Linked DNA regions of Homo sapiens. The protein of the gene in region 2 purifies or fractionates together with the protein of the main gene of each other region. This does not show direct contact. Each region holds a gene or a part of one and is shown on either strand. Other genes may lie near its edges.

The links.
Region 1: the proteins of TRIM10 (region 2) and EMILIN3 purify together in Homo sapiens (affinity purification with mass spectrometry; 3 studies listed by BioGRID and IntAct, with this or other methods). This does not show direct contact.
Region 3: the proteins of TRIM10 (region 2) and MTMR1 purify together in Homo sapiens (affinity purification with mass spectrometry; 3 studies listed by BioGRID and IntAct, with this or other methods). This does not show direct contact.

The regions. Positions count from the first base shown.
Region 1 is NC_000020.11:41,361,611-41,363,946, forward strand, and holds part of EMILIN3 (EMILIN-3 precursor), read right to left. Parts: intron 2,252-2,336; coding exon 2,028-2,251; intron 1,445-2,027; coding exon 1-1,444.
Region 2 is NC_000006.12:30,154,814-30,158,355, forward strand, and holds part of TRIM10 (tripartite motif-containing protein 10), read right to left. Parts: intron 2,579-3,542; coding exon 2,556-2,578; intron 2,242-2,555; coding exon 2,126-2,241; intron 947-2,125; coding exon 914-946; intron 1-913. UniProt on the Homo sapiens protein: E3 ligase that plays an essential role in the differentiation and survival of terminal erythroid cells. May directly bind to PTEN and promote its ubiquitination, resulting in its proteasomal degradation and activation of hypertrophic signaling.
Region 3 is NC_000023.11:150,731,269-150,734,926, reverse strand, and holds part of MTMR1 (phosphatidylinositol-3-phosphate phosphatase MTMR1), read right to left. Parts: intron 3,458-3,658; coding exon 3,308-3,457; intron 2,386-3,307; coding exon 2,197-2,385; intron 1-2,196. UniProt on the Homo sapiens protein: Lipid phosphatase that specifically dephosphorylates the D-3 position of phosphatidylinositol 3-phosphate, generating phosphatidylinositol. Could also dephosphorylate phosphatidylinositol 3,5-bisphosphate to produce phosphatidylinositol 5-phosphate.

The DNA.
Region 1 (2,336 bases), on a different chromosome or scaffold from region 2:
TTCAGGACCTGCCTGTGGCCAGCCTGAAGCCTGGAGCCTTGGCTGCTGACCTGCTCCTGGATGGCCTGGACTTCGGCTTCCACCTTGCGTTCCCGCTCATCCAGGGACGTGTTGGCAGCCAAGAAGGCATCAGAGTACTGGCTGACAGAGTCACTGAGGCCTGTGAGCGACTTGCTCACTGAGTTCAGATTGACCTTGAGCAGAGTGATCTCGCCTTGAAGTGAGCTGCCCGTCCCTTCTGCCAGCTGTCCCTGGACCTCGGCCACAGTGCCATTGAGCTGCTGGAGCAGTGCTGCGTGGCTGGCCACCTGGCGTAGGAGGGCCTCGCTCCGGCTCTGCCAGGCCTTCACCTCTGCCACGAGGCTGTCCAGGATGGCTGAGGTGGTGCTCGGGGTGCACGAAGTCTCCAGTGAGACCAACCGTTGCTCTAGCACAGCCAGCTCTGTCTGTACAAGGGGCCGAGCTGACCTGCCCGGAGAGGCGCTGTCATGGCTTAGCTCCCCAGCCAATGTTGCTAGGCGCTCCTCGAGGCTCTGCACGCGCTCTTCCAGCATGGTCCCAAAGCCGCCCACTCCCCACCCCCCCATGTCCAACCTCAGACAGCATCCCCTTGCTCCACCCTCTGTCCCATTGAGCGTCTCCAGACCCTCAAGCAGCCCGTCCACACCTCCCTCGAGCATGGCAGCAGAGAGCCTCGTAAGCTCATCCCCGGCCGGGGCACCGGGGCCCCTTTGGGTCTCGGTGACTGCCTGCAGGGCCCTCTCAAGGCCATCCATACGGGCATTGATCAAGGCTAGTTGCCCACAGCAGCTGCCCCTGCCAGACACGCTCAGGCCCTGCAGCTGGCTGCCCAGCTGTGACAGCTCCTGGCGCAGGGCCAGCTCCCGGCCATCAAGGCTCTGGTGCAGCCTCCGGCTGGCGGCCTGACCCTCCTCACATTGCCGCCGTACCTCCTGCACCCGCAGGTCACACTCACTCTGGACGCCTTGCAGCTTCTGCTCAAAGCCATCCAGCAGGCTCCCCCAGAGTCGGTGCAGCCGTCGGTCCACGTACTCCTCCAGCAGGGCCAGGGAGGTGAGCGGGGATGGTGGGGCTTCCCGCAGCCGCTGCAGGTGGGCCTCATGGCCAAGTGCCAGCCCATGCACCTTGTCTAGAAGCTGCACCTTGGTCTGAAGAGTGTTGCTCACCTCTGTCACCTTGCTTAGGATCTCGTCTAAGGGAGGTGTTAGTGGCCCTCTGGCTCTGTCTCCTGGGCCCACAAGCCCCTCAGGGATGACCCCAAAGCCCACAGGGACAGCAGGAGCCCTGGGGCCACCAGTCATCCTGTTGGGATCCTCGTGGCTAGCCACCAGGCCACTGAGGGTACCATATGTTTGAGCCAGGCGCTGGACATCACCCTCCAGGCGTTCCAGCCGCTCACCAAACAGCCCTGGGCCTTTCCTTCCTGGGAAAGAGAAGAGAGCCCCAGGGGCATCACTGGCCTCACCCTCTCAGCTTGTCACAATGCCAGGCCACCCAAGAGACTTTCTGTTCTTTTTTTTTTTTTTTGAGACAGAGTCTTGCTCAGTCGCCCAGGCTGGAGTGCAGTGGTGTGCTCTTGGCTCACTGCAAGCTCCGCCTTCCGGGTTCATGCCATTCTCCTGCCTCAGCCTCCCAAGCAGCTGGGACTACAGGCACCCACCACCACGCCCGGCTATTTTTTTTCTATCTTTAGTAGAGATGGGGTTTCACGATGTTAGCCAGGATGGTCTCGATCTCCTAACCTCGTGATCCACCCGCCTCGGCCTCCCAAAGTGCTGGGATTACAGGCATGAGCCACCGCGCCCAGCCCAGACTTTCTGTTCTAAGCCTACCTTCTCACTGGGCATAACTCCCTCAGCTTTATGGTGGGGTGAAAGTGGGGCTTGGGGCTTGCCCCTCCCCATCCATGCCGGAGCTCAGCCAGCCTGGGATCAGTCCCCTCCCTGCCCCTGCCACTGAGCCCAAGAAACCCAATCACCTTGGAGGGTCTCCTTGGGCAGACTCACCATGAGGGCTGGGGGCTGCTCTGCTGTAGGAAGGGGGCCTGGGGCCTGGGTCCAGCTGCCCTGAAGGAATCTGAGGCTCAGGCTCCAGCTGGGGTGAGGCAGCCCCATGGTCCGTGAGGTGCTCAGGGCAGCGTTTCCCAGTGAAGCCGGGACAGCAACGCCAGGCGAGGTCTGTCACTGTCTTGTAGCCAACCTTGTATTTGGGTCTGAGTACTGTGCGGTACCTGGGCCAGGGAGGGCAAGAGAGTGGGATCCTGCACCTGAGGGCTGTGCTTCTCCCCCTAGCTGGCACTCAGGGCCGCCCTCAGA
Region 2 (3,542 bases):
TGCGTGCCAGCTTGGATCTCCTGGGGCTGATATACCACATTCTCCCCTCCTCCCATCTCTATCCCACAGTGCAGCGACATTTCTCCCTTCAGTCCAAACTTCATGATTCCTCCCTGTTTTCCTCCCAGGGCACTGGTGACTCATTTACAGTCTTCCCTCCTGGCAGGCTCTCTGGCTCACCCCTGGGTTATTCACTCTGCCTCAGTAATTCTGAAACTGTCAGAGTCTGAGGACCACTTTTTACCACCAAAAACTGCTGCAGAGCCTTGCGTTTTGTTACTTTTAGTATTCATAAATTGAGAAGCTTCCATAAATTTAGGTCCATCTGTGGGTTAGAGAACCCCCTCCAACAACTCCGTGACTCCCAGGGTCTTAGGCTGGTTGATTGAGAAATGACAGCCTTGAAGGGGTCCATTCTGTTCATTTTTTTCCCACCCACAGGCCGCCCTCCTTCTGTCATCTGTGAAATGACATCTGAGAGGAAGCAGGGGTTCCTTACGTTCTAAAGAGGTGATTATAAACCCAGATCAAAGTCCCCTTTATCCAGAAAGCATTCCCAGATGGACTTTATCCCATTCTGCATTAATCTTTCTATCTACTCGACATGCGCAGATCAGGATGTGAGCTTCATACCACGAATGTAGTATGTGTATGTGCTTGTCCTTTCTTCATGTTTCTCCTGAGAGCCTTACAAACAATGTGACACACACACACACACAACCTATATATACACACATGTATTATATACACACACATATGTGTATATATAATATATATGATGTGTATATGTATCCATGGGTGTTTGTTATGACTATTGTCATAGTCATAACATAGTCATAGTGCAAATCCTGCAAAATTTTCTCTCCTTTCCGAGGACTTCTCATTCTCTCCCATCCTGACATAGGCTCCTTACCTGGCTCATAGTCCAACTCAAAGCATAGTTTTTCTGTAAAGAAAATAAACCAGGATGAGATTTTATTAGTCTTACAAAACCATCAGACACTTAATGATGAGAAAACTGAGGCCAAGAAGAGGGAAGGGACAAGAAGAAGAATGTAAGCTGGAATCCTCTAGACCAGTGGTTCCAAGCTTGCATCAGAATCATCTGGAGCTCTTGTTAAAACACATCTGTTTCAGATTCAGGTGCTCTGGGGTGGAGCTGAACATCTGTATTTCTAACAATTTCCTGGGCAATGCAGCTGCTGCTGCTGGTGGGAGCCCCACTGCCCTAGCCCTGATCAAACAGGGACCATGACTGCCTTGCTCACCTCTGTACCCGCAGAGCCCAGGACATAGTAAATGCTCAAGAAATATCTGCTTAGTGAATAGAGAAATGGGTTCATTTATTTATTATTCCACTTGGAAATAATTTTGGGGAGAGTCAAAGGTCAGCCTTTGATTAGAGTGAAATTTCCTTCACTGACAGGTCACTGGAAGTATTTGCAGGAAATGGAATTATGGGAAAAGTCCTTCTAGGGTGACATAACTGTGGGTGGGTCATTTCAAAATTGGTGTCATCATTCATTCTGTCATGGTTAGTGAGGAGGTGGTTGGCAGAGAGCCATGTCCCATTCCTGACTCTCATCCAAACCCTCCCCCACACCCTACCACCACTCCCTGTTCCGGAAAAGGAAGTGGAGCACAGTCCCCGTAGGACCGTCTAACTCTGAGCCAGACTAACAGAAAGAAAGTGAGAAGGAAGGAGGGACGAGCCAGATACCACAGGGTCAAGATAAATACTGTTGTTGGCTATTAATTAACAATGTTCATCATCAAAAACTTATCACATATTACAAATGTTGCTGTGGGATTTTTTAACTTATTAAGAATGATATATTGTTAATCATTATCTTTCATATTGCTTAATGACCACTAATCAGATTTGTTGAATTATTTTAAAATCAGTTTAACTTTTTCACCAGAAATATTCACCTTTATTCTCTTTCTTCATTGTCACAATATCCTAATAGGCAGATTTTATAAAAATCTGCAAATAAGGAAATCAAGGCACAGGAAGGAATAAGGCTTGCCAAAGTCACACCTTTCAGCAGTGGAGCGTGGAGGCCACTCCTAAACCCAGGCTTCATGGCCACCTGCGCTCTGTGGAGGCCTGGGGTTCTCTTACCCAGAAACATCTTCATCTCCCTCTGCAGCGGGAGGGCCTGCTGGGGAAAGTCCCGAATCCTCTGGCCCAGCTCTGGCGACACAGCCACCGGTTTCCGGCACTTTCTGGTTTCACATCTAGGGGCACAGAAATGGCTGGGTCTGGGAATTATCATCCTTAATAATGTCTCCAGACTCAGCTGGTCATCTTCTAATAGGGCATGATGGCGCTAGTTCCTGCAGGCAGACGTACTTCCTCTAGGATGAATCCCACTGCCCATTTTTGGGCATCTATGGATATACCTGAGAAGGCATTTGGGTATATAGAGGTTTATATGTAAATTTGTATCCTTAAGTGAGAATGTTATATACCTGTGTGGCAATAACTAGGCATGCAGTACATGTATGTATATTTATATGGAAAAAGAAAAGAGAGAAACTATATTGCTTACCTTATTAGAGTGCTTCTGATGTCCTAGGAGAAAGAGATACCAGAAATTCAGTTTCCAGCTTCTCCTTTCCATTTTTCTTTCCTTTCTTTTTCTACTTTTATTTTATTTATTTTTTATTTGCTTGTTTGTTTGTTTGAGAAAGGGTCTCACTCTGGTGCCCAGGCTGGAATACAGTGGCGTGATCATGGCTCACTGCATACTCAACCTCCTGGGCTCAAGGGATCCTCCTACCTCAGCATCTTGAGTAGCTGGGACTACAGGTGTTTGTCACCATGCCTGGCTAATTTTCTTTTTTTTTTTTTTTTTTTTTTTGTAGAGATGGGGTTTTGTTATGTTGCCCAGGCTCCTCCCACTTTTCTTATGACTGGAAAAGACAAAATATATTTCTAGCCCTGGACAGGAAAAGGATACCAGATGCATAGAGTCACAGAGCATTAGGACTCACCCATCTCTGTGGATCAGAGCCCAAAGCCTTTATTTTTTAGATAAAGATGGTGAAGTGACCTTCCCCTGCTCACTGGAGGCAAAGTAAGTCTCATACCAAGGTCTCCTGTTTCTCAGTCCTAAGAGCATCATTCTAAGTCATGCTGCCTTTCCAATACTTTGTGGGGACCCCAATACCTCTCCTCCAGTGTGAGGAAGTGAAATAGACCAGGACAAACTTCCTGACTGGTGGTTGGTGACATTTAGGTTATAGAGAATGGTTTGCAACTTACTTAATACTTTTTCAAAGTGCTACTTTCACTTCCATCTTACTGTTGGATCCTCACAAAAGCCCTGTGAAATATTTAAGGAAAGTATCTTCCCTATTTGGCAGATGGTGGGACGGAGAGGTGGAGACCAGAGAGCAAAAAGTGACCAGGGAACTCTTGGAAAAGCATGAACTAGAATTGAGACTTTCTGGTCCTCTGACCCACCTCCCATCTGGGATACAGAGATGTGTGAGTCAGGGAGACATGGCTTAGGCAAGACAAAGATGCAAGAGTC
Region 3 (3,658 bases), on a different chromosome or scaffold from region 2:
TTTCTAAATAAGGTCACATTCTGAGGTTCCAGTTGGACAAACTTTTGGGAGACATTTTTCAATCCACGACAGTGGTTCAACATATAAAAATCAACCAATGCAATACCAATGCAAGAAGAAGATATGAAAGGCAGCCAGATTGTAAAGGAAGAAGTCACATTATCTCGACTTGCATATGACATAATCTTATATATAAAGAACCAGTGGAGACCTAGAAAATACTGTTTCCTAGACACATATACTGCCATAGTTAAAATTATTCTAGATATACAATTTAGTGTCCTGTCTCTATCTCTCCTGCATGGGATAAAACACAATGAACTGCCCTCACCCTGTTGGCTAGTCTGAAGATGGCCTCCACCAATATGGCTTTTCTCACATTTTGTAATTCCTTGGGATATGGTGGTGACAGGTGGGAGGCAGAGATGTAGAAAGACTGACACAGCTAATGATCCAGATGTGGGGAGCAAGGGGGCCTCACTGAGGGATGCCTCCCTATGGTAGGCTGAAAAGTGGCCCCGCCAAAGACATCCACATCGAATCCCTGGCAATGGTGAATGTGACCTTATTTGAAGAGAAGGTCTTTGCAGATGTTTAAGGATCCTGAGATTTGCAGATGTGTTTAAGGATTCCAAGATTAATTGAAAAGAGGGTCTTTGCAGATGTGTTTAAGGATCCAGGATTATTTCAGGTGGAACCTAAATGTCATCACAAGTGTCATTAGAAGAGAAAGGAGGAGACGCAGAAACCCAGAGCAAGAGAGGGTCATGTGATGACGGAAGAAGAGATTGGAGTGATGTGGCTGCAAGCCCAGGAAGGCTGGGGCAGCCACCCCATGCTGGAAGAGGCAAGGAACAGATTCTCCCCTTGAACCTTTAGAGGGAGCAGAATTGGCCTCCAGAATTGTGATCAATACATTTCTGGTGCTGTAAGCCAACAAATTGGTAGTAATTTGTATGACAGCCTCAGAAAACTAATACTTCCCCATCTTCCTCCCTGCCCTGTTCCTCTCCCAGTCTTCCCCATCTCAGTAACAGACACCACTATTCACCCTCAAGTCAGACACCTGGGCAACACCCTTGACCACAGGGGTGGCGAGCTTATCAGCATCATGTACTGTGCCCTGAGGATGCACTCACCACTGTGCTAAGTCATTTACATGCATTCTTCTCACTGAATTTTAATCCTCACACAACCCATGACATGAGACACTGATATTATCTCCTGTTTTACAGAAGAGGAACCTGAGGCACAGAGAGAGGTTAAGTAACCGGCTCAGGATTCTAGAGCACCAAGTGGCAGAACCTGGAGGAAAACCCAGGTGTAACTGATTCCAAAGCCAAGGGGTCTCACCAACTTGCCATCGTGCCTCTCAGGCCAGTTGGAATATACGGAGGGTTTGTGGTCTGGGAAACAGCCAAGCAGAGATGTCAACCATACAATGGGATAGAAATCCAGTCTCAACCTTAGGAGGGATCAGGACAGGAGAGAAACTGCAGTGTCAAGCTCAAGTTGAACTCAGCATACAGACAGTGTTTAAAGCCGTGTCATCAGAGATGGCCCCAGGAGTCTGTGTAGAGCAAAGAGGACCCCAGACCAAGTTCGAGGAGCAATGCCATTTGAAGACTGGGAAGAGAAATCAGTGAAGGAGATGGAGAAGGCCAGGCTGAAGAGCGAGAGAAACTCAGGGTGTGATATCATGAAAGTCATGGGAACGGAGGTGTTTTTAACCATGTCTCACTGCCACCCGAGGTACACTACACAGGTGCTCCATGAGATTTATGGAAACTTTGTACATTTACACATTTCACATGGCTGATTCCATTCTAAAAGAAATTCAGACCAGACATGAATTAATCAACTAACCACTATATTCCTTAAACGGACTTCCAAGGACCTCACGATCATTTCATTAAAATGCTAAATCCTTTAGATGATAATTGTCTTTCTAGGTCTTTACTTAATTGATTTAGCAGACAGGATATTGTAGAGAAGCAATGAAACAGACAAGATCCCAACCCATGTGAGACACCAAACACAGCCCAAGGAGCATACACCAGGGAGGAATAGCTATGGGACTCCAAATGATTCTAACTTCAGGTGGTGAGGAAATCAATGAGTTATTCCAACTGCATAATGATTTACAGACAGGACATGAAAATATCCAGTGTTTCTGCAGTGCTATTAAGAATATACCTTGTTGGTATCAGCGACACTGTTTTGTCGAGCATCAAAGATGATAAGCTTGTGTGACTGTGCGTTAGCATCCATTATTGTTTGCAAGTATTTTTCATCCTCTTTGCAGCGCTTATCATTGGGACCCACAAGTGGCTGGCTGCAACGGGTAATCGTTGCTTGACTTTCCGGATGAATCCATGACAACACCTAGTGTTTTTAAGCAATAAATATTAGTACAGTTCCTAAAGAATGTATGCTCTAATTACCTGGTAGGAAAAACAAGTTCCCTTCTCAAGCACGGTCTCTTATACATATTTTCTTCAAAAGTGAGAGTGGGCAGGCCAATCACAGCATTGTAGTGGCCATCAGACTCAATGTTTTGGTCAGGATGAAACAATTCTGACTACATGAGCTCTAAAAATCCCCTTCCATCCCCAATATTCTATGATTCTAAGAAAAACAAATCCTAAATCAAACTATTACTAAAATCTAGCCCCATTCCAATTTGATTGACTAATTTTACCTTGTCTCCTAATTTTAAAAACATCTTTGTATCTCAACAATAATATACGTGGCAGGGTAAGGACAAAGTGAATATACAGTCTCTTATAAAATCTGACACTCTGCCACCCCACCTCTCATTTTCCTCCAGTGGCCAAGTGACTCAGGATTACAACAGATGCAAACTCTGGGCTCAAACCATTACTCCCAGCTGTCTGCTACTACTTCTGTAATGATGTCCCTCCCACGCAGCTATGGCATCATGCTCAGTATCTAAGAAAGAAGCATTTTCTCTAGGATGATTCAGTGAAACCAGCAATGCCAACTGGTAATACAATAGCATGATAACTTGTTGTTGCTACTCCTTTGTCATTCTCTACTACTTTTTGAGGGTATGACTGAAGTTCCCCTTATACTTAGTTATAGGAAATCGTAAAAGAGGGAGTCATAGCAAACAGATTGTTTATATAATTAGGTATTTGTTGAGAATCAAAGGTATGTTCAGGTTTATAAGCTTATTTTTCTGCTTTCCATTTTTGTTCACTAGTTTCTTTTTTGTCTTAAATCTCTCCATATTAGATCTAACGCAATATATATTCCTATATAAATGACAATGTTTATTACTTACAGGGACTCTGCCTTTTGCTCGAAAAGCTGCCACTTTTGAAAGGTCATCATCTTTTACACTAGTTGGCACAACAATGATGGCAGGGTAGGTGTCACAGAACTCATAATTACTGTTTATTTTGGATATTTTCCAACTCTCATTTGGCAAGCCCTGTAAGGTGTTGGAGAAAGAAGAAGAGGGTGAAATGCATGACTTTACACTTTGAAAAAGTACTAAGCATGAAGTACATCCATTTCTTATTTGCAACTAAAATCCGTTTATAATTTATTGTTTATTGTAACTTAAAAGTCAATATATATATTTATTCGGTAAAACCCATTTCCTAGACATTTCTAAAAATCTAAAGAAGCA